Regions from separate parts of the Homo sapiens genome. Here region 1 is linked to region 2. The links come from fine-mapping of genetic effects on gene expression. A gene starts in region 2. The other region holds a variant in brackets. All regions are shown on one strand. Distances are from middle to middle.

Region 1 (12,527 bases), 28 kb after region 2:
GGCACCTCTACTTCACCCATGCCAGGCCTGGCACTGCTTCCCCACTGCCTTTTTTCTTTGCCCTTGCACCTCTTTTTGCTGCATGCTAAGTCACCGCTTGTGTCCTCCTGCCTGAATTCCTCTTTTTCCCAGGAGACTCAGGCTAGGGTGGGGAGAGTCTTGCTAAAGCCCTAAGCAAGGAAGATTGATTTCCAGGAGTGTAGACAGGCTAACATGGGCAATTCAGGCCTTCACCTTTATCTGTGTAGATAATGTTTCAGACACACGGAATAGTCCAGGTGTCAAATTCCTTGTGGAAAGAAAACTTGACATTGATCTACTGTCAAATGGTTGCTTTGGTTTTTCGAATAGTTAAGATAGACATAATCAAAGATCACATCATTCGGCAAATTTTTATTTATTAAATACCAAAATTTGGTTCCCTTTTAACTACATGCCTAATCCTACTTCCTTTCTCAGCCAGAATTGTAAACCTTATTTTATTCTGGCTTTGCCTGGGTAGTCCCACCATTGTCTTCCAACATTCTCAGGGGAATCTGTAAGATTGCTATCCGAAAACTTTGTGGGGGAAATTATACAACAATTTGAAAAACTTTAAAGAGTACATAAATGATGGAATGTTAGTCCTATGTACTAAAAATGCCAATTATCTTGTAATTCATTTAAACAGTCAAAGAGATTCTAGTCTAGGTGCAGTGGCTCATGACTGTAATCCTAGAAGTTTGGGAGGCCAAAGCAGGAGGATCACTTGGGCCCAGGAGTTAGAGACCAGCCTGGGCAACATGGCAAAACCCCGTCTTTACAAAAAATATATAAAAATTAGCTGAGTGTGGTGGTGTGTACCTGCAGTCCCAACTACTTGGGAGGCTGAGGTGGGAGGATAATTTGACACTGGGAGGCAGAGGAGGATCACGTGCAGTGAGCCATGATTGTGCCACTGCACTCCAGCCTGGGCGACAGAGCGAGACTCCGTCTCAAAAAAAAAAAAAAAAAAAAAAAAAAAGTCTTTAGCCAGAATGGATCACCATTGAATGGGCCTATATTTTCCAAGCAGGATTTGATTAAATCTGGTCACACTTTAGGCCTCAAATTCAGAGATGATGTAGGCAACGCTCAGTGGAGACATCCCATAATGGAAGTGGACAGAAGTCCAGGAAGAATGACCTGACTCTGCAGTGCCACCAGAGTTGCTATAAAGTTCTGAAATATATTATGTTTCTTCATAAAAGTTAAGTTCTACAGTCAGCATGAAAGTCAGAAACTACATTGCGGTTTTTTTGTTTTGTTGTTTTTTTGAAACAGAGTCTCACTCTGTCACCCAGACTAGGCTCACTGCAGCCTCCACCCTCTGGGCTCAAGCCATCCTCCCACCTCAGCCTTCTGAGTAGCTGGGACTGCAGGCATGCACCACCACGCCTGGCTAATTTTTTATATTTTTTGTAGAGACGGGATTTCACCTTGTTGCCCAAGCTGGTCTTCAACTCCTGGGCTCAAGTGATCTGCCTGCCTCAGCCTCCCAGAATGCTGGGATTACAGGCCTGAGCCACCATGCCCAGCCAGAAACATGTTTTAAACCAACCCTCAACCAACCCATACTTTGGAGAAATACCTACAGAAACTAAGATTGGTGGGAGGCCCAGCAGCGTCTCACCTCCCATCTCAGACTCAGTCCAGGACACAGGCTCAGGGGGCAGAAGGAGGGCTGATTCGCCTGCATCTTTTGAAATTCTTTCTTTCTGTCTCTGCCTCTGCCTCTCTCTGTCTTCCTCCCTTCCTCTCTCTCTCTCTCTCTCTCTTTCTCTCTCTCTCTCTTTATTTATTTCACCTGAGTTTCAGAGTCCTTGGCTGAATTTGTCCACAACTTCCTGCAGCTCTAGCTGGGAGCCGAGAAGCATCACTGAGGACCACAGCCCCTTGCTTCCCAGAGCCCGGTCCCCTGCACTGAGACTGCTGTTTTGGCGCCTGTGGTGGTCCTCTTCATCCTCCACTCTGCTTCCCAACTCACTTACCACATATGGTCACCACCTCCTGGGTCATGTCACAGGGTACCAGGGCTGGAGTTGTTTCACCAGGTCAACAGGCATGGCTGCTGCCCTAGTTAGAGAATGTCCTAGAAGACAGGTCAAACCATCATGACATCCTTGGGACCAGGGGATAGGAGACAGAGGCCCCCAGTGCACAGTTGTGTGCATTGGTGCCCATATCCCCTTGCTCAACTTCTAGGAACTGGCTCTGGCCCCCTGCACACTCCACAGGCCCCTCCTGCCAATCTGCCTCTAACAATTTTCCTGCCTTCCCCTTTGGAGGGCAAAGACCAGAGGTGGCCCCTTGTTTTGTTGAGAAGCTCAGGGATCTGGTTCTTCCAAGGAGTCTTGGAATCAATCCCTCCTTGTCACTGTGCCCTAGAGTGTCTTGTAGCCTCCATTCCCATGGGTCTTCTTGGGCAGGTGGCAAATAGAGCTGACTGAGCAGTAGGGTGACTCCTTCCAACCTAGAATCCCAAGCTGCACAGTAAGGACGTAAGAGGACCGCCAGGCCCAGCACTCCCACTCTCCCCATGTGAGGGTAAAAGTTGATGACATCTCCCAGCCCTGCGAAGGTCCCGCATCCCACTACCTGCCCTCCCGCAGCTGGAAGGGCTGACTCCTGGAGAGGGAGGATTTACCTGAGGGCTCTGACCACCTTAACTGCCCAATGCCTTTCTGGAGACAGTGGCTGCCAAAGGAGACACGGACCTGTTGCCCATCTGGACAGTGTTTGTCAGGGAAGAAAGGGCGGCTTATGCAGCAGCCAGGCAGCACCGGGAAGGAGCTGGGTTGCTCCCGCCTTCCCGTTTGCATCACGCGACTCCGCGGGTCCCAGCGCGGCCCTGGCTAACCCGGATCGGCGCCACTGCCGGGTCACTGAGCCTCTCCAGGACGGAGCCTCGCTTCGCGCAGGAGCCCAGGCCATCCTCGCTGCGGAAAAAAGGCGGGATTCCTCTCCTGACCCATAGTAAACGAGCTGCGCTGGGGCGCGGGGAGCAGACTGCTTTTCTGGGGAAGCCGTGGGGCTCTCCACTTTTCGGGGTGGGGAGGGGAAGCTGAGCAGGGCGCAGACCAGGGGCCTGCCACATGGCCTCTGCGCCAAAAGAGTAGAGCCCAGGATGAGGGGCCCCTAGCCAGGCAGACCCAGCCCAGGAGGTTTTGGGTCTTGGGGCCTTGGGTGTGGACTGGTCCTAGATGAGCCCGCCAGGTTGGGTGCCACCGGCCTTGACGGGTTCAGGAGATGGGACGTTATGTCTAGACGCCGCCACGCTTTATCGCAAGCCCGGGCCTCATCTAGACCCCAAGGGGCACCCCAACCTGTTTAGGGTTCCCGGGACTCGTGCGCTTGCCCGCCTAAGGCGGTAAATTGCCATCGTCTCCAAAGGCCGCCCCCACTTCGTCCGCTCCCCACCCGCCCCCAACCCCAGGCTCAGAACCCGCCAGAGCAATCCAGGCCCGTTCTCTAGGTCAGAAATGCCGGCCCTGGGGTCATTTGTCCCTGTAGGGAGAGCGCCACCCGCTTGCCCCGGGGCGCTGTCCAAGCCGCGGTGCTGAAGCGCTCCGGGCCCTGACTCAGCGAACACACAGTCGTCACCGCGTGCAGCCGCCACTCCCCAGCCTGGGCCCGCTCCAGGCCGCGCCCACACCGGCTAATCATCCGCCCGGATGCACGTCTGCCTCATCAGGCTTAAACTAGAATCGCCTCGGAGGTTGGAGATTCCTGAGGAGGCCCAGAAAGGGCCAATGCTTGTCCCGGGCCAGGCAGCTGGGAGAGTGTGGAGCTCCATTCCTGAGCTCCATCCCGGATCCCGCAAGCAGCGGCTCACTCTGCCTGCTCCAGACCCGTCCCCTCCAGTGAGCCCAGAGGAGGGTCCACTCACTCTCGAAGAACGCATTCTTCCCACTGGCATCCAAGCCCAGCAGACCCTGCTACCTATGGGGTGGTGGGGGGGAGCGCAGTCAGACAATCCCTGGAATTGGTCCCGCACACCGCCAGCAGTGAAGATGCCTCTCTCCCTTATTTCTGGATGCCCCCCACAGCTTCTATGGATGCCCACAACCCCTTCCTCCCTCCACCCTCAATGTCCAAGCAGGCAAAGAAGACCGGGTGTCCCCAGTGAAGGGCTCTGCAGTGAGGGGTCTAGAATCTTGCCCTTGAAGGAGTAAATGATATCCCTCGAGTTGAGCGTGATCATGATGGCATGATATTGGGCCAGGCACTAGTCCAGCAAAGAGAGGCCAGAAGAAGCAGCCAGATGGCAGTGCTGGTGCCCAGAACCATGACCTGTCTTGCCCCAGG[C/G]CCCCACGGGTGACTTCTTAGAGTCGGCCAAGGATCAGTGCAGGCCAGGAGAGAGATGAGATAATAGTCAAGGCAAAAGGGTTTTGAGAGGATGTTCCAGGGGAGCAGAGCTAGCTGCCAGCACTCATTTGGTAGATACAAATGTCGTGTCCTGGTCTCTGGTCTCGGCAGATGTGTTCAATAACTCACGTCTGGCATCTCCAACTGCTAGGCCGTTCCATTTCGAGCTGTGGAGAGCATTCTGGCTAGACCCCGTGAGCAGGGCCCCAGGGGACTGGGCTCTGTGTCAGGGATGAGTTCACACTATGGCAAAGAGCAGGTGGTGGCCTCAGGGCTGTTGAGCTGTCCCAGAACAGGATTCTTTTCTTTTCTTTCTTTCTTTCTTTCTTTCTTTCTTTCTTTCTTTCTTTCTTTCTTTTCTTTTCTTTCTCTTTCTTTCTTTCTCTTTCTTTCTTTCTTTCTTCCTTCCTTCCTTCCTTCCTTCCTTCCTTCCTTCCTTCCTTCCTTCCTTCCTTTCTTTCTTTCCTTTTTTGAGATGGAGTCTCACTCTGTCACCCAGGCTGGAGTGCAGTGGCATGATCTTGGCTCACTGCAACCTCCATCCCACGGATTCAAGTGATTCTCCTACCTCAGCCTCCCAAGTAGCTGGGATTACAGGTGCCCACCACCATGCCCAGCTAATTTTTGTGTTTTTAGATAGACATGGGGTTTCGCCATGTTGGCCAAGCTGGTCTGCAACTCCTGACATCAAGTGATCCACCTGCCTCAGCCTCCCAAAGTGCTGGGATTACAGGCGTGAGCCACCTCGCCCAGCCCAGAATCAGGATTCTTAAAATGATTGTGCTGCATACTGAATCATGTTGCTTTTGACTCTTGTAGCTGGCCCCCTTCCTTCTCTAGGGTGCCTGCTGGTACACCCTGGATGATGTCTGAGACAGATGGTGCTGCTCAGCCCCTTGAGGGGCTGCTCTGCCCCATGGTTGAGGTGGACTGTCAACCATGGGGCAGGAAGATCTAACTCCCCTCCCTCATGGTCCTCACATTGTGGGTCCCCTGGCAATAGATAATAACAAGTGTCACCATGGACATTAGAGTGACCCCAAGAGACAGAAAAGGTGGGTATTAGTGAACACATTAGGGGAGACAGAAGGGCAGAGAGGGCACGGGACAGTCACCAAGACTCCTAATGACTAACTTCTTCAAACTTCTCAGCAACATCCTCTTCCCTGTCCCCTGCTCTCCACCTCATCCATCAAGGAGCTGATGCTAATGGGGTTCCCTTGTTCAGAGCCAGACTGCTATGGTTACTATGGTAGTTAACAAACAGCCACTCCAGGCTCTTAACAAAGTAATCCTCCTGGAGGGACAGAAGAGGGCTTCTGTGGCCCGAGGACCAACATGTTACCTCTTGGCTGGCTTGGCAGCCATGGCAAGGACATGAACAGCATCCACTGAGGAAAGGAGACTGCTGGGCACACCGTGGGGAGGGGCAGGAGCCTGGAGGAAGTGCAGATGTCGGGATTTGGCTGCCGGCCACACCTGCTGGGCCCTCAGGTCGTGAGACACAAAGTGTTGCTTTACCTTCTCATTGCGGTAGCCAATCCAGAGCTGTGACAGCAGTTGTTGGGGAAGAATGTGAATCCAAACGCATTCAGCAAGCCTGCTAGAATGGGAAAAACCCAGGGGGCCCTGGGAGAGGGTCTCCCTGAAGCCCAGGGTGGCAAGGCTCCCGCCAAATAGAATAATTCAGCATCTGTATAAACCAGAATAATTCTACCACCTGGATGACCTACAGTAAGGCTGAGGAACATCACACTGGGCAGTGCACAGAGCAAATGCAACCCTCCATACACCACCTGGAATGGTCCCCGTTTCCCATTCTGCTCTCTCTGTGAGCCTAGAACAGATGCAAAGGCCCAGTGGAGGATGAGGGGCAGCCCCAGCGCACCAAGGCCTACTTTTGAGTCTGTATTTTCTGGTCCTGTGTCTCTTAGGAGTAGCCCCTTCTGCTGGAACTTCTGAGCAGCTTTTTAATGCCTCATCCCCAGACAGGAAGAGATAGTCAAAGATTGTTAGCCTTTTTGAGGCCAGATGTGGTGGCTCATACCTGTAATCCCAGCACTTTGGGAGGCCGAGGCAGAAGGATCACTTGAGGCTAAGAGTTCGAGACCAGCTTGGCCAACATGGTGAAACCCCATCTCTACCAAAAATACAAAAATTAGCCAGGCATGGTGGCAGTCCTGTAATCCCAGCTACTCGGGAGGCTGAGGCACAAGAATCACTTGAACCCAGGAGGTAGAGGTTGCAGTGAGCCAAGTTTGTGCCACTGCACTCCGGCCTGGGCGACAGAGCAAGACTGTCTCAAAAAGACAAAAACAGAAACAAAATCAATTTGATGGAAAGAAAGAACTAGTCTAAGAAAAAGAAAGAGCTTTTAGAATTTAAACTGTTTAGCCAGGTGCGGTGGCTCACACTTATAATCCCAGAGCTTCTGAAGGCTGAGGTAGGAGGATCTCTTGAGACCAGCCTGGGCAACAAGTGAGACCCCATCTCTTAAGAAAAATGTTTTAAATAATTTAAGCTGTTTAATAAAAATTCAGTAGGATTGGAGGATAAAGTTGAAAAAATCTCCCAGGAAGTTAGCTGGAGGTAGGGGAAGGAGAATTGGAGTAAAAGAAAAGGAAGGAAGGAAGGAGACGAAAAGAGTTAGTTGATTAACTTCGTATTAGTAGAAATTCTAGGAAGAGAAAACAATAGGGAGGAAATTATTATAACGAATTTTTGTAAATCCCCAGAATGGAAGAGCATATGTTTACCAGCTGAAGGAACTGATACCACATATCCACATAATGCGTGAAAAAAATACCATAGAAAGCACAGCACTGGCAATTTTGAAAAATGCCTACAGGATAAACAAAAGATCCTAAAACTTCTGGGGGAAAAGAAGTCCACCCCCTAGGGACTAGATATTGTCACAGCAACACCGGAAGAATACAGAAGTAAACTTCAAATGTTGGAGGGAAAACTATCTCCATATGGAAGTACATATCTAGTCAAAATATTGATCAAATGTAAGAGTAGAAAAAAGATATCATTAGATGTTCAGGGTCTGAAAACTTTACCTTCCATGTACCTCTGCCAGGAAACTTCCAGAGAATGTACCTCACAAACGTAAAGAAGTGAACTAAAATGCAGAAGCTGTGAGACTCAGAAAAATGGGATGTCATGGGGTGGGAGTGGAGTGCCTGGGGACCCCATAAATGAAGGGGCAGAAACACTCATGCATGACAATTCATAGCAGGAACACGAGGCAGCCAGCCCAAACAGAAGCGGGAGGTCTGAGAGCTCCAGAAAGCCTGGGAGATGCCCTGGTCATTTCCCTGTCCCACCCTCCTACCCCTGGTGCCTCACCCAGGGCTGGCAAAGGAAGGGAGCTCAACTCATATGTGGATGATGGCAGATCCAGCGCACAGGCACGAATGAGTTCATGATGAAAGTGAAGTGCCAGGGCATGAGAGTGAAGTGCCGGGCAGGCAGTTCCCTCTGAGCAGCTGTGCCACTACCACTTGACACACACTACATGCTCCTGCAGCAGCCCTGTTGCTGCCACCAGACGCCCACACCACCCCGGGAGCCTCTGTCCTCGCCCAGCCAGTCCTCAGCATTGTCCCTACCTCCATGGGAACAGATATGAGAGGGATGCTGGTGAGCGGCAAGCAGGCTGCTCCAGCAAACCCTCTTTCATAAGTAACCCAGTTAACTTCTGAGGTGCCCTGAGCATCTGCTATGCTTGGCACCAAGTGCTTTATATGTGTACTTTTTAATCCACTGGGAGGCCATTTTATAGGGAGGGAGCTGAGGCTTGGGGTCTGAGGTGGGGGCACCAGGCTCCATCTCCTTCCTCATGTCCTGTGCCGACCCTGGGTGATTACCCTCAACCTCAAGTCAGAAACCTGCCCCTTGTGGGCAGGGACCCAGCATGGCCGGAAAGGGGTCTTTGGTTGGGTTTGTGTGGTCTACATCATGAGTCCAGTCACATGGGATTCCCAGTACATGATAGGGTATTCTGGTACCTCCAAGACCTGGGGTGGCAGGGCAGTGAGAGGGAGGGTATTTGTAGACCAGATAATGCCAGATTTGGGTTCAGTGCTACTGGACCCATTCTGTATGTGGAGCAGAAACAAGGGAGCCGGGGCCCTGTACTCCGATGTCTGTAGCTCAAGGAAGGGTCTGACGCATGCCCTAAACAGAAATCCACCATGGCTTAAGGCCAGGGGCACTGGGCAGAAGAGGACCAGGCAGAGGATTGCGGTGGGCTTTGGAGAAACCAACACTGTCCTGAGCTCACATGTCAAGTACAACACAGGAACGAATCCCTTCACCTTCCTCAGCCTCAGTGTCCCCAGCTAGAAAAAGGGGGTCAAGACAGCCCCTCCTTCAGGGTTGTGGTGAGGACTGTCCTGGGCCAATTGGCCTAAGACCATAAGAGACAGACCTGTACTTCAACTAAGTAAAGATTATTGACTCTCTTAGTAATAGCAGAGACCACACACCAGAGGACACGGAGATTGCCTCACCAAACAAAGGAAAATATAGTTATTATGCTATAGTATTGGAAAAAAAGGTAGAGTGTAGATGGAATTTTTATTGCACCAGCTTTTTGGCTGGGTGCAATAGCTCGCACCTGTAATCCCAGCAATTTTAGAGGCCAAGGCAAGAAGATCACTTGAAGGCAGAGTTCCAGACCAGCGTGGGCAATATAGCAAGACCCCATCTCTACTTTTTAATAACTAAAAAAATAAATAAACCTTTTTTTAAAAAGACATGATCTTATTATATTGTCCAGGCTGGACTCAAACCCCTGGGCTCAAGTAATCCTCCCACCACAGCCTCCAGAGTAGCTGGGACTTCTTACAACAGGGAGCCACAGTGCTTGGCTAACGCACTTTTTTTTATAGACTCAAAGCTAAGGCCTGGACTACGAAGGGCCCAGTATTCTATTTTCCTTGAAAACTACATAAACTTGGAATGTGGTGCCCAGAAAACTTTTTTTTTTTTTTTTTAGATGGAATCTCAGTCTGTTGCCCAGGCTGGAGTGCAGTGGTACAATCTCAGCTCACTGCAACCTCCTCCTCCCGAGTCCAAGTGATCCTCCTGCCTCAACCTCCTGAGCAGCTGGGATTACAGGTGCGTGCCACTATGCCCTGCTAAGTTTTGTATTTTTAGTAGAGACCGGATCGATGATCCCTCAGGGATCATAGGATGGAGAGACAGAGGATCCCTGGGGAGGTAGGGTGGGAGGGAGCTGATGAGCCGTGCCACTTCTGAAATGCAGGGTGTGTGGCTCTGGTGCAGGGAGAGGCAGGTGGATGCTGGGAGGTCAGAACTTGCAAGGGCCTTGGGGCTGTCATGGGGGATGGGCCCCTGGGGCACCCAGAGTACACCGGGCAGGTCTCAGGGCAGGCTCCCTTGACCCTGGCAGGGTGATGTGGTCACTCCCTGAGGGACTCCTGTCAGGGCCCGGTCGCCCACCCTGGGCGGCCCCCATCCCACCTCAGGGCTAACCTTTCTCAGCTCCAGCAGAAAGCACCACCTCGAGTCCAGGACGGGCAGCCCCACTGGGCAGCCTGACCGCCCCCCACGCCAGGGGCCCCAGTAACCCCAGCCAGGCTGTCCCTACACTCCTTCTTCTCCCAGGTCCTGCCCCTTCTGGGAGTCAGCCCCACAGGAAGGCCCTTGTCCTCCCTTCCCTGTGCCTTCTCCTGGGTTGAGCCCTGAGCTGGATAGGGACAGAGCCAGTCCTTTCTGGGGATTGGCTCCCAGTCTGGGATGGCTCCAGGCCCTGTGCAGGTCCTCAGCTTTGCCTGGGTTGTCTTACAGTGAGACGGAGCTGCCTCCTCTGACTGCGTGGGAGGTGAAGGTAAGAACCTGATGCATGGAGGGGCTGGTCCAGGGATGTAGGGACTGGGCAGGTGGTCGGTGAGGCAGAGGAGGCAGCTGGCCTGGGCGGTGGTGGGTGAGGGCAACACGCTGTCACTGGGAGGGGCAGCAGTCCCTGCTGGACCTGACCCCAGGTTGCTGTGACTTTGGCAGTTTGATAAAATTCCAAAGTGAGAACCACAGTCCTGGCTTGGGAGTGGCTGCCCGCTTGTGTCAGGACCCCACCTAGAGGCTGGGACCTAAGACTGGTGTGTTTGTGGCCTGAGGATGGCATGTCCCCAGGTCCCAAAGCCAGCCCACTGGTGCTCATTTGCTCAAAGGCTCTCAGCCATTGAGGTCTGCCCTTCCCTGGCTCCTTCCAGCTGGCTCCCACCAGGGGTCCAGAGCCCAAGACCCAGCATCCACGGGTGGCTCTGGAAAGCCTGGCAGCTCCACTAACTCCAACATACCTCATTTGACAGCAAATGTGGTGGGAGATGAGACGAACGAGCAAGTGGATGGAAATGCTGGGAGAATGGGAGACATATAAGAACAGTACCAAAGTAATGTGTGGAGGGAGAGGCCCCTGGAAGCACTCTCTGCAGAGACAGGGGACAGGCACCCATGGCTGTGGCCTGGCACCGTCAGCCTCTCAGAGGGTGGGTGGCACACTGTCCTCGCCCAGAGGACTGCAGGCCTGGTCGCCAGATTTCCTGCCTATTCGTGCAAGCGTCACCTTGCTGGGAGGGAATCTGAATCTAGGGCTGGGACTACCCGGAGCTCAAGGCTAGGGATGCCCTGGTGACCTGAAGGAAGGAAAAGGTTCAGATCAGAGTTTTGACTCTGAGTGTCCATCCACTCTCAGTCCTGGGAAGAGAGGCCCTGTCCCAGCTTGATCTCACCTCTACCGAGGAATCATGGGGCCAAAACCGACAATTTCCAGAATCCTTGGGCTCTGGTCTTCACTGGGGTCACCCGGTGGCCTGTGATACCAGATTGTTTTTTGCACACAGCTGATAGATCTAGTGTACAAGGGCATTCCCATGAACATCCGGGGCCTGGTGTGGTCAGTCCTCCTGAACATTCAGGAAATCAAGTCGAAAAACCCCAGAAAATACAAGGTACGCTCAGCCAGAGCATAACAAACAGGACAGGCCGTGTCAGGGGCCCAGGTCTCCAGCTGGAGGGAACGTCAAGCACACCCTGGAGGGGGTGGGGGCAAAGGTCAGATGAACACCCTGGGCACAGATGGTGACACAGTCACCACAGACAAACTGGGCTCTGGTGACCCTCCCCGGCTTCAGTAACAAGCCAAAAAGCAGCTTTCTGCACAAAGAAACCTTCCTTCTGTCCTTCCTTCCCAAAGTGCTGACTGTGGGCTGACTGCCACTGGGGGCAGGGAGCCTTCCATCTGTTCTGAGGCTGCTTCCTCCTCTTGGCCCTGCCCTACAGATCATGAAGGAGAAGGGCAAGAGGTCATCTGAACACATCCACCACATCGACCTGGACGTAAGCGGGACATTAAGGAAGCATATATTCTTCAGGGATCGATACGGAACCAAGTAAGCCTACGGGAGCCACAGGGTCCCAGCAGAGATGGGGTGAATGAGAGGGATGGGGGCTTCCCTGGAGTAGAAGCCAGGGTCACCCAGGAGGGATGACACAGGTGCCAAGAACTGTCCCGACCCAGGGAGCAGCCGGCACCATGAACCGAGCACCTCCCTGGTTCCAAGCCCTGGGCCAGACTGGAACATGTGGGGCCAGAACCCAGGAGGATCCTGAGGAGATGGAAGGCAGCAAACAAAATCATGCACAATGGTGAAGGGTGCTCTCCCTGACCCATGGGGACCCATGGTAGGACCCACGGGAGGGTGGCAGGATAGAGGGCCCATGAGCTCCCCCAGGCAATAATGACAGCACCAAATGCTGGGAGAATTAGGGGTCCTGGAAACTCTCATCCAGGTCTGCTGGGAACATGACATGGCACAGCCACGTTGGCAGCCAGTTGGGAGTGGCTCACAAAGCTCAATGGACTTGAACCACACATCCCCAAAGTGTCACAGATATTGAACCCACTGATTTGGAAACTGACATCCACATGAAACCTGCATGCCAGGTTCACTGCTTGATTCCTCGTCACTCACACACGGAGCCTTCGGGGACGGCCTTCAACACGGGGATGGGGAGAGCAAGGCTGGTCCTCCCTTCAAACAGAAGACCCAGTGAGAAAAGGGAACGAGCCAGTGATGCCCGCACGAATGTGGGTGGATCCTAGATGCATT
Region 2 (12,370 bases):
TGTACAGTAGAATCACGTTTTGATTTTATTAACACTGACCAAGTTTAACTCCATATGAAGTGTAAGCTTGATATCGTTTATGATGTCTATCAACTGTACCAAAAGTAAAACATTTAAAAACAATCATCTGAATGTCAAGTTTTCTCTCCATAAAGGACTTGCCACCTTAAGGACCCCAAGTCTGCCTGAAACATGAGCCACATCAATGCCGGTAAAGGCCTGCATGACCTAATCTGCATCCTGGAAACCTCTTTTGCCTGAGCTCCCCAGCCCCAAACTAGCTGGTCTGGGAGAGGGAGCAGGCAGGTTCCAGGAGTCAAGCACACGCTTGAGCAAGCAGCACAATAATCCATCTTAAGACTCCTCATTCTGGGATGGCTCCACAATTCCTAAACAGCAGTCTGCAAACTCCACAAACAAAGGCTCTTGCATGTAAGCTCTCATGAGCTTTGCTTTGTCTTCTCCCTGATCGAGGTTGACCATCAACTGCCTGAGGTGTGGATTGAGCAATAAGCTTCTTAATGTTGCAGATTCCCCTAAAAATTAACAAGAAAAAAAGCCAGTCTGAGTTCAAGTGGAAACACATGGAGATGGCTGAAAAGTGAAGAGCTATTTCAAGTGTAATAAAACTATCAGCAAGGTGTGGTGGCTCATGCCTGTAATACCAGCAACTGGGGAGGTCAAGGTGGGCAGATTGCTTGAGCTCAGGAGTTCAAGACCAGCCTGTGCAACATGGCGAGACCCCACCTCTATAAAATGAAAGGTAAGACCAGCATATCAAACTATTTCCGCATTAAATGCAGTAACAGATACCAGTTCTTGGTATCTTTGTAAATATTGTAACTTCGTGCCACTTCAGCTAAGAAAAAAATGCTTTATCAGCACAATCACAAAGCAAATAGTAGCATTAAGCTGCTGGCATGTTTTCTTTCTTTCTAGCCATAAAAGTTGCCAGTGGTGAAGACGGCTATACGAAATAATCTGAATGATGTCTAAGCATGCCATTTGGCATGCAGCAGCACCAGTAGCAGGGAACCAACAATAATACCTGCATGGTACTTCACAGTCTGTAAAATTTTTCACACCTATTACTAGCTCATCTCCAAACTCAGTCTAACTAATCATTACCATGAGACTAAGTGCAAAACATAACCTTTTAACATGATTCTGTGAAATGGGAAGAATGAAATTAACAGACCCCATGCACATGTAACAGAATGTTGTAAGGACTGAATAAGCAGTGCTACAAAAATGGCAACACCTGTTTCCCCCTAAATCAAATCATGTGATAACCAGTTTGTGTTAAGGGCTGGACTGTGAGCTGAGCACTGGGGATCTGGGAATACAGGTCCCTGCTGTACAAATCGGTATGTGAGAGACAAATTACCATGAAATGTAACAGTGATTTATTACTATTAAGTCCAAGTTGCTATGGGAAACCAAAAAAGTGCCTAATTCTGAAAGAGACACAAAAGGTCAAGAAAAGCTTAGCTGAGTGAAGAAAACTTGAACCAAGGCTTGAAGGAGGAGCAGAATTTTGCCAACCCACAAGACCAGCAGGATTCCAGGCAGAAGGAATGGTGTGGGCAGGCTGGGAGGTGTGAAACCCTGTATGTTTACAGATTATGTGGCTAGATAGTAAGAGCCCTACATGCCATACTTATTCAAGAAATTAAAAACTTTTTAAAAAATCACAATCCTTACAACACAGTAAATGTATCTCAACGATTGACAAGCATAGCACAGACTTACCTAAATTCTTTAAATTCTGCAAAGAAACTCTGTCTTCTTCCTCATCACTATTGAGAAAATCAGCTATAGAGTCATCATCATCTAAGGAATACAAAACAGTCAATGGCTCATGGCTAAAAAGGAGGCCTGGGCACCAGATTTTAACCACTACTTGAACAGGATAAAAATGTGTGCACGCACATGTGATAGTGATAGGGGTATTCAAGCAGGTACAGACAAAAATCCTCTTCTCCGGAGTCTGTGACTATACTAACACTCCTTTTTTAGAAGAGGGAGGCTAAGTGAAAGAATTGGTGATTTTAACAAATGCACTCTAGTGTTCACATCCTTACTGTATATGTGGTCCTGTGGTCTTTAGGCTTAGACCCCGGTTGTCTAATAACTTAATACCCATCCCCACCTCAACATGGCTCCAACCCTGTGATGGGCCAATTAACTGGATGCTCTGTAAAAACCAGCCAAGTAGAATCTCCTGTGCTTTCAGCATGGGCAGAAACTGCTGGCATTGCCTGAACCCAACCTGGAAATTTCTCAAAGGGCAAAAATGGGCCATGCCTTTGGAGTGAATGTTCAATACCTCTTTGGTGGCACCAGAGGGGCTGCTTTCAGAGCCTGGCATGGTGCTTGACACCCAGGAGGTATTAAAGAACGTTTAGATGGCTGGACGGATGGGTTGACAGCCCACTACTGCTGTGAGCTCTGAACCCCCAGCAGCAGCGAGATGATCTAGGACAAAGAAAGCCTCCTGCCTGGGCTGAGTTCAGGTGAACTGACAGTCCCAGCCAGATTCATGGAGGGAGACCAGCAGCTATGGGCTAGAGAAGGCTCCTGCCAGCAGGGCCCACCGCAAACCCCCAAACCACAGCCATGGCCTTTCTCATCTCTGTCTTCTGCCCATTTTTCTTCTCCTGAATACTGCTTTCAGGCTGTTGCCTCAATATCACCCATGATGACATGGCCCCACTCCTGATGCTCAAGGCTAAGGAAGCTGTTCCTTCCCAATGAAGCTATTGTTCTGGATTCCCTGACCAGCCCCACTCTCCCCTTTTCCTTCGACTTATTCTATGTGAAGTCCCTTGTAGATTTGTTTGAAGTCAACCAACCCACCTTTGTTTTCCACAGGCTTTACGGTTTTGGTAGGAAGAGCTGATCTTATTTTTTTCTCAACAGGACGAGTTTCAGGGTTGCACTGTTCTGAAAAAGACACAAATCCCAGGCCCACATTACCTCCATTTCAGCGACAAGGCTGCACCTCCCTACCAAGGTAGCATCTAGGTAGGAAGCAAGTGTCTGGGGTAAGGGATGTGGGTGGGTGCCCAGGAATGTGGAAGAAGTGAGAGATCAAAGCAAGAGAGAGATTAAGGAAAACCGCCAGCAGGCTGAGAAAGCAGGACTCATTCATGCACCCCAAGAACCTGTCCCCATCCTCCCTACCCTGCCGAATCTTACAAAATTCTCACCACAATTAACTGAGGTGTTTGAAATAGCTGCTGTAAACCAGATACCAGATGGGATAAAACTAGGGGCAAAACCACCAAAGAACTTACAGAGTCAACAGAAGGCCAGCTGTGCTGGCTCACGCCTGTAATCCTAACATTCGGAGGCCAAGGTGGGAGGATCACTTGAGCCCAGGAGTTTGAGACCAGCCTGGGCAACCTAGCAAGACTATGTCTCTACAGAAAATAAAAAAAATCATCCAGGCATGGTGGTACACACATGTGGTCTCAGCTACTTGGGAGGCTGAGGCAGGAGGATCCCTTAAGCCCAGTGTGTCAAGGCTGCAGTGAGCTGTGATTGTGCCACTGCACTCCAGCCTGGGTGACAGTATCAACAGAGCATGAAGTCACAGGAAAGGGTTCTGAGGACATAAAGGCAGGACCAGATTGTAGAGACTTAAAATGTAGATTTGACAATATGCTACGGAAAGGTTCTAGTCATGTAGGTGGCAGTTACAACAGCTGCCAGTGACTAAGTGCCGAGCACTGTGCCAGGTACACAGTGAGATACATAGTGGCTCAATGAACCTTTACGAAGCCCCCATGACATGGAGACTGTTAATTCCACTTACAGATGAAAGGATTAAATTTTCTTGTAATAAACTTGTCCATTGGGGTCCACAGCTAGTAAGTAGCAGAGGCAGATTTGGAATCCGGGTCTAACTTTACGGCTATGCTATATGTGTAAGGAACACAGCAGGAGGGACTGAAGGAGAGGTGAATTTTCTGGGTTGTACCTGACCCCAAAATACATTTGTGTCTAAGGTGCTCAAAAAGAGGCTGGAGCTAAACAGTTGGATGTCAGCAAGAAAAAAAAAAGTTTAAAGTGAAAGAGAGATCACCTACCTAGGAATAAAAGTCAAGGACCACATTTCAAGAGAGAGATCTAGCAAAAGGAAGGAGAAGCTGGGCACAGTGGCTCCTGCCTGTAATCCCAGCAATTTGGGAGGTTGAGGCAGGAGGACTGCTTAAGCCCAGGAGTCCAAGACCAGCCTAGACAATACAGTGAGACCCTGTCTCTACGAAAAATAGATAAAGTTTGTCTCCGTTACTCAGGAGGCTAAGGTGGGAGGATCACTTGGGCCCAGGAGGCCAAGGGTGCAATGAGCTGTGATCACACCACTGCACTCCATCCTGGGCAAAAGAGCAAGACCCTGTCTCGAAAAAAGGAAAAAAAAGAAAACGAGAGTCTACAGCTAAGCCACCCTGAATGCACCCTATCTCATCTGACCTCAGAAGCTGTAACAGGGTCAGGCCTGGTTAGGACTTCGAAGGGAGAAAGGGAGGAGAGAATACCACAGAGCGGTATCTTCCCAGCCTCCAAAGAATATCAAGAAAGAAAAAGCCAAACACAGCAGATATTCATGGGAATCAAGAAAGATGACAGGCTGAGCATGGGTAGCTCACGTCTGTAATCCCAACGCTTTGGGAGGCCAAGGTGGAAGGATCACTTGAGCCCAGGAATTCAAGACCAGCCCAGGCAATACAGTGAGACTTCATCTCCACAAAAATTAAAATTAAAAATAAATAAGCCAGGCATGGTGGCACACGCCTGCAGTCCCAACTACTTGGGAGGCTGAGGTAGGAGGACTGCCTGAGCCCAGGAAGTCAAGGCTATAGTGAGCACCACTGCACTCCAGCCTGGGTGACAGAGCAAGACTTTGTTGCAAAAAAATAAAAAAGACAAATGAAAAGTGTACAACAGATGTGGCTATTAGAAATTTCTGATAAAAATTATTTATTAAATACCACTTTAACACTGCCTATAGCAGCAACAAAGGCAAAATTAATGTAAATATCCACCAATAAGAAAAATAAATATTAAAATGACCATACTACCCAAAGTAATCTAGAGTCAATGCAATCCCTATCAAAATACCAATGATCCTGTTCACAGAAATGTCAAAAAAAAATTCTAAAATTAATATGGAACCACAAAAGACCCCCAATAGCCAAAGCAATCCTGAGCAAACAGAACAAAGCTGGAGGCATCACCACTACTTGGCCTCGAAATATACTACAAAGCTATAATATCTAAACAGCATGGTACTAGCATAAAAATAGACACATAGATCAATGGAACAGAATAGAGAACCCAGATATAAATTCACACATTTACAGCCAACTGACTTTTCACAAAGGCACCAAGAGCATATACTGGGGAAAAAAGCACTCTTCAATAAATGGTACTGGAAAAATAGGATAACTGTAAGAATAACCATATGCAGAAGAATGAAACTAGATCCTTATCTGTCACCATATATAAATATCAAAATGGATTAAAGACCTAAATGTAAGACCTGAAACTACTACAAGAAAACACAGGGGAAATGCTTCAGGACATTGGTCTAGGCAAAGATTTTATGAATAAAATCTCAAAAACACAGGCAAGAAAAGCAAAAATAGGCAAATGGAATTCTATTACACAAAAAAGCTTCTGTACAACAAAGGAAACAATAGAATGAAGAGACAACCCACAGGATGGGAGAAAATATTTGCAAAATATTCACTTGACAAAGGATTAATATCTAGAATACACAAGGAGCTCAACAGCCAAAAAAAAAAAAAAAAAAAAATTAAGTGGACAAATGGGCCGGGCATGGTGGCTCACCCCTGTAATCCCAGCCCTTTGGGAGGCCGAGGCAGGTGGATCACCTGAGGTCAAGAGCTCAAGACCAGCCTGGCCAACATGGTGAAACCTTGTCTCTACTAAAAATACAAAAATCAGCCAGCAGGCACCTGTAATCCCAGCTACTTTGGAGGCTGAGGCAGGAGAATCACCTGAACCCTGGAAGCGGAGGTTGCAGTAAGCAGAGACTGCGCCACTGTACTCCAGCCCGGGCGACAAGAGCAAGACTCTGTCTCAAAAAGAAAAAAAAAAAAAATGGGCAAATGAGCCAAACAGACACTTCTCAAAAGAAGACATATAAATGGCCAACAAGTACATGAAAAAATGTTCAACATCACTAATTATTAGGGACATGCAAGTCAAGACCACAATGAGGTATCATCTCACCACAGTAAGAATGGCTATTATCAAAAAGAAAAAAACATGTTGGCAAGGATGTGGAGAAAAGGGAACTCTTATACACTGCACTGTTATTGGGAATGTAAATTAGTATAGTCATTATGGAAAACAGCATAGAGGTTCCTAAAAAAAAACTACGAATAGAACTACCATATGATCCAGCAATCCCACTACTGTATATATATCCAAAGGAAATGAAATCAGTCTGCCGAAGAGATACCTGCACTCCTGCGTTTACTGCTAGTCACAACAGCCAAGATAAGGAATGAACCTAAGGATCCACCAACAGATGGATAAAGAAATGCGGTACATATATACACTGGATATTAGCCATAAAAAACCATGAAATCCTGTCACTTGCAGGAACATGGATGAGCCCAAAGAACATAATGTTAAGTGAAACAAGCCAGGCACCATAAGATGTTCTTGTTAACATGTGGATGCTAAGCAAGTTGATTTCACAGAAGTAGAGAGCAGAATAGTGGTAACTGGAGGCTAGGAAGAGTAGAGTGTAGGGGGCTAGGGAGAAGTTGCTTAATGGATACAAAATTACAGCTAGATGGGAGGAATAAGTTCTAGTGTTACACAGTACCTTAGTGTGACCATGTTGGCAGCAATTTATACTTTCAAATAGCTACAAGAGAGGATTGCGAGTGTTCCCAACATGAAGAAATGATTATTTGGGGCGAATATGCTAATTACCCTAATTTGATCCTTAAACATTGTATACAGGTATCGAAGTATCACACTGTAACTCAAATTGTATGCAATTATGTGTCAATTAAAAACAAATATTAAAAAGAAAAATCAACCAATAGGAGGCTTTATATAAATAATGGTCGTACCAACTATATAATGAAATAACATACAGTCCTTTAAGTCAGTGAGCTAGAACTTGTATGCACTAGTCTTTATTTTTAATTTTTTTAATTTTTTTTTAGATGGAGTCTCACTCTGTTGCCCAGGCTGGAGTGCAGTGGTGCAGTCTTGGCTCACTGCAACCTGCGTCTCCATGGTTCAAGCAATTATCCTGCCTCAGCCTCCTAAGTAGCTGGGATTACAGGCGCGCACCTCCACACCCAGCTTATTTTTGTATTTTTAGTAGAGATGTGGTTTCATAATGTTGGCCAGGCTGGTCTCGAACTCCTGACCTCAGGTGATCCACCCACCTTGGCATCCCAAAGTGCTGGGATTACAGGCATGAGCCACTGCGCCCAGCCTGTATGCACTAGGTTTTAAAAAGTGCCCAATATATAAACTCAAATGAGGATGTTGGGTACAGTCTCATTGCTGAGATTCTAAAAGCTAAAAAAAAAAGTTCTATATATTGGTACAAGAGTGGAAATAAGCTGAAAGAATCTACATCAAGCTTTTTTTTTTTTTTTTTTTGAGACAGTCTTGCTGTCTCCCAGGCTGGAGTGCAGTGGTACGATCCTGGCTCACTGCAACCTCCTCCTCCCAGGCTCAAGCGATCTTCCCACCTCTGCTTCCTGAGTAGCTGGGACCACTGGCACAGGCCACCACGCCTGGCTTTGTTTGTTTATAGAGACGGGGTTTCGCTATGTTGCCCAGGCTGGTCTCAAACTCCTGAGCTCAAATGATCCGCCCGCCTCGGCCTCCCAAAGTGCTGGGATTACAGGCGTGACCCACCGCGCCCCACCTACATCAAACTTTTTTTTTTCTTTTTTTTTCCAGACTGAGTCTGGCTCTGTAGCCCAGGCTGGAGTGCAGTGGTGCGATTTCGGCTCACTACAACCTCCGCCTCCCGGGTTCAAGCGATTCTCCTGCCTCAGCCTCCTGAGTAGCTGGGATTACAGGCGCGCACCTCGCCCGCCTAATTTTTGTATTTTTAGTAGAGACGGAGTTTCACCATGTTGGCCAGGCTGGTCTCGAACTCCTGGGCTCAGGTGATCCACCCGCCTTGGCCTCTCAAAGTGCCGGGACCACAGGCGTGAGCCACCGCGCCCGGCCAGGTCACTTCTTTTTAACTGTACAAAAGTGTGTTCACATCATACACAGAACTTACTTGGTTCTTTTTTTCTCTTAACAAATCAAGGACGTCTCCTTGTATTGTACATGGACTTACCTCTTTGTTTCTAACAAGACATTATTTACACGAGTGAAAATACTGTTAAAGTTAGCGCAGTTTCAGCCAAATGGTGAGGGGCTACATCAGAATACTGAGGAAGAAACTGCTAGGGTAGACCTCGGTGGGAAAAGCAATCGGAAACTATTTCTAAGCAAAAAAGAGTAACACGCAGAAGGAGAAGCGGGGTAGAAGAAAGGCTACTGACCAAAACCCTGAGAGCGATTACAGGCAGGGACAACAGAGGGAACTGTCCGACACACAGAGACACCAGGGACCAAGTCAGAGGAAGCAAGGTTCCTGCAGAACCCGCGGAGACCCGAGGCGGGAAAGGAAGCGCAGCCCAAGGGTCCACGCCCCCAAGACGGAGGCTGGACGTGGGGGCTGCCCCGTGCGCAGTGGTACGAGGGCTGGCGGGGACGGGGCTCACCTTTGTGCTTCCGGAAGCAGACTACCGAGCAGCTGTAACAACAGAGGCCACAGGCCGCGTCAGCCCCGAGGGTCCCCGGCCCCTCCAGCAGCCCGCCCGCTCCCGCCCGGCCTCCCGGCCTCCCGCCCTCCCGCCATGGCCGGACACCCGCGCCCCTGGACCCCGCGACCTCCCCGCTCACTAGGGCACGCGGCAGGCTGGACAGCGGTATTTGGGCTTCTCCAAGCAGATCACGCAGACGACGGTGCTACATTTGAGCGACGCCATGGTTTTGTGGAAGGAGACTGTTCACTGCGCCGCCGCGCGCCTCTCACGCAGCCGCGCCCGCGTGCACGCCCCTTTTTCCGTTTCCTAAACGGGGACCAATCAGCGCTCAGCAGGTAGGCAAAAGCAATGGACTGATCCTGCTCACTGTTCCAGCCCTCGTACTTAGAGCGTCGATACACTCGATGCGCATCTATTAGCTGCGTCCCAGGTTTTCCTTGATTAGATCACAGCGTCGAAGAACTTGTTATGTAGCCCAGTCCCTGTCCCTATGCGGCCGTGTGGCTTGGAGCAAGCCATCGACACTGTCCAGGTGTGTTGCCCCGCATGTAAAAAAGAAAACAATACATGGAACTAAACGTCCTTTACTTTCTGGCTGGGACTTCCTGAATCTTGCAGGGACATTGGGGTTCATCCGCCCATCTCATCTGCTTATTCTTGGCAAAGGACAAGTCCAGACATTGGGCGAACCAGAATCGGTTGGATCACGCAGTAGACAGGAACCTGCCCTTCCCAACCTAGACCATTTTTCACTGGGGAAAGAAAGATGAGCCTGAACAGTGGCAAATGTTTGAGCTCCAACTGTGAGCCCTTCCGGGCTGGGGACCCCCCGGGGTCTTCTAATGAAGAAGTCGTCTCTGTCCCCTGGGAACTAAATGCTTAGAGTGAAAGTAGGACGGGGAAACGGGGAGGAAAGAGACTCACTCTTAGAGTCCTGCCGTCGCTACCCTGCACCTGCACGCCCCTGAGACTGAGTGCTTCTTAAATTTTGCACTCTAGGCTCCTCACACCTCCCCCTAGTCCCGGAAGCTAATTGACCAGGAAGCAGGCCAGTGACCACTAGTCCCAAGACGGGGATCCCAGGCAGATGAGTCTGGATAGATGGGCTATGATGGGACTTGAATGCCACCACAAACTTTAGGTTTAGAAAAAGTAATGTTTTTTGTTGTTTGTTTTTTAAGGAAATTTGCTTGCAGCTAGGCATGGCCCAGCCTTACCTTAGCTCCCATCCTACCTGCACTGGGCCCTCCCAGGGCCATAAATCACCCTTACTCCCAAGTGCCTCCTCTTCTGTGTTGGCCGTTCAGCCTTCAGGGTCCCTCTTCAATAAAGGTGTCTGCAGGGATGTATCTGCAACAACCGAGGCAGTGGTTTGAACCTTGGCTCAACCCCCTCCCTGGCTGTGTGACCTGGAGGGGTTGGTTACCCCCTCTGAGCTCCCTCATCTATTAAAGTGGATGTTTGGGCCTACTTTCCTGAGCTGTTGTAAAGCAGAGAGGAGACCATGTGCAAAAGTTTTGTAATCAGAAGTGCTACCTGATATCTAGAAAGAGTCTTAACTCTCATGGATCTCCGTCTGGACCGCATGAACATAGGTCCCAGGCCCCAAGCCATGCTCTCCAAAACAGTTCTGCCGCCTGCTTCTTGAGTGGGAGGTGAGTAATTATCCTTCCTTTGGGCGTGGCGACCCAGTCCAGTCCTCAGTGCTGAAGCTGCTGGGCCCTCTGGCCACCTGCCTGTCCTGCTTGCAGCTGCCCCAGCCTCCAACTTCTGCCCAGGACCCAGCTTAGAATCCAAAACGGGTCCACACAGGCCCAGTAACCCGCAGCGTTCCTCATATTGTTCAACAGTTGTACCACTGATGATTTGAACTTGAAGCATCCCAGAAAGTCCAAGCTTACCTGGGAAGGCCAGAGAAGGCCAGTGACTTGTCCAGGGCCATATTTAAATCCTGTGCCAAGTCGGGCATGGTCGCATCAGCCTGTAGTCCCAGCTACTTAGAAAGTTGAGGCTGGAGGCTCACTTGAGCCCAGGAGTTCAAGGCTGCAGTGAGCTATGATTGTGCCACTGCATTCCAGCCTGGATGACAGAGAGAGAGAGACCCCGTCTTAAAGACGAAAAATTTAGGCCAGGCGCAGTGGCTCACGCCTGTGATCCCAGCACTTTGGGAGGCCAAAGCAGGCAGATCACTTGAGGCCAGGAGTTCAAGACCAGCCTGGCTAACATAGCAAAACCCTGTCTGTACTAAAAATAGAAAAAATTAACTGGGTGTGGTGGTGCACGCCTGTAATCCCAACTACTAGAGAGGCTGAGGCACAAGAATCGCCGGAACTCTAGAGGCAGAGATTGTAGTGAGCCAAGATCATGCCACTGCACTCCAGCCTGGGCGACAGAGCAAGACTCTGTCTCTAAAAATTAAAAAAAAAAAAATTTAATTTAAAATCCTGTGCCCCACCAGGTAAGGTGGCTCACGCCAGTAATCCTAGCACTTTGGGAGGCCAAGGCGGGCACATGGCTTGAGCCCAGGAGTTCAAGACCAGCCTGGGCAACATGGCAAAAACCCATCTCTACCCAAAAAGATACAAAAATTAGCGGGGGGCAGTGGCTTGAGCCTGTAATCCCAGCTACTGGGGAGGCTGAGGTGGGAAAATCGCTTGAGCCCAGGAGGTGGAGGTTGCAGTGAGTGGAGATCACGCCACTGCACTCCGGCCTGGGTGACAGAGCAGGACCTTGTCTCAAAAGGAAGAGAGAGAGAGAAAAAAAAACAAAAGATCCTGTACACTGTCTGGCACGGGTAGAAATTTGCCCACTGTGGCGGACTCACCACTGTCTGCTTGATTTGTCCTGTGATGTGTGTACCAAGGCTGAGGCCAGAGACAATCCTAACCATTTTCAGGGGCTCAGTCCCTCCCACCTGCATACAAACCACGCTGACTCCCTATCTGCGAGTGGAGAGATGATGACTCCAGAAAAAAAAAAGAAAAAAGAAAATTCGGCCAGGCGCGGTGGCTCACGCCTGTAATCCCAGCACTTTGGGAGGCCAAGGCGGGCAGATCACGAGGTCAGGAGATCGAGACCATCCTGGCCAACATGGTGAAACCCCCGTCTCTACTAAAATACAAAAAATTAGCCAGGTGTGGTGGCACGCGCCTGCAGTCCCAGCTACTAGGGAGGCTGAGGCAGGGGAATCCCTTGAACCCGGGAAGCGGAGGTTGCAGTGAGCCCAGATCGCGCCACTGCACTCCAGCTTGGTGACAGAGCGAGACTCCATCTCAAAAGAAAAGAAAATTAAATTCCTGGAATCCTTCCCATGCACATCCACGCAGGGAAGAGGCCCCTCCTCTACTCTGGATATCTGGATGCCCCCAGCTTTCCCCGACCTTCGCACCCCTCGTCCTCTAATGTCCGGGAAAGGAGGTGGGCTCAGCCGCGATGGCGGTTAGGTGGTGGCACACTAAGGCGCACAGCGCAGCTCCTCCGGGCAGTGGCCAGTTCAGACAAGAAAGGGGGCTGTGACCCCAGGCCCAGCAACT

The links. PIP is the estimated chance that this variant, and not a neighbour inherited with it, causes the effect.
Region 1: its variant is fine-mapped to the expression of ZNHIT3 in whole blood (TOPMed, PIP above 0.99).

The regions. Positions count from the first base shown.
Region 1 is chr17:36,455,209-36,467,735 of GRCh38, reverse strand. It overlaps the pseudogene TBC1D3JP. Among named protein-coding and RNA genes, the nearest start is that of TBC1D3F, 22 kb to the right of the region's middle. The variant C/G (reference allele first, on the strand shown) is at 4,327.
Region 2 is chr17:36,483,389-36,495,758 of GRCh38, reverse strand. ZNHIT3 (zinc finger HIT-type containing 3) reads right to left here and starts at 9,078. Exons shown (of 5, transcript NM_004773.4): 1 at 8,974-9,078; 2 at 8,793-8,824; 3 at 2,860-2,946; 4 at 1,753-1,833; 5 at 1-536. The coding sequence starts at 9,059. The coding sequence ends at 355. It overlaps LOC105371749 (a long non-coding RNA gene), which reads left to right and starts at 9,080. Exons shown (of 3, transcript XR_934710.4): 1 at 9,080-9,172. It overlaps MYO19 (myosin XIX), which reads left to right. Exons shown (of 26, transcript NM_001163735.2): 26 at 1-123. It also overlaps the pseudogene RNA5SP439. RefSeq lists an enhancer at 8,424-9,357.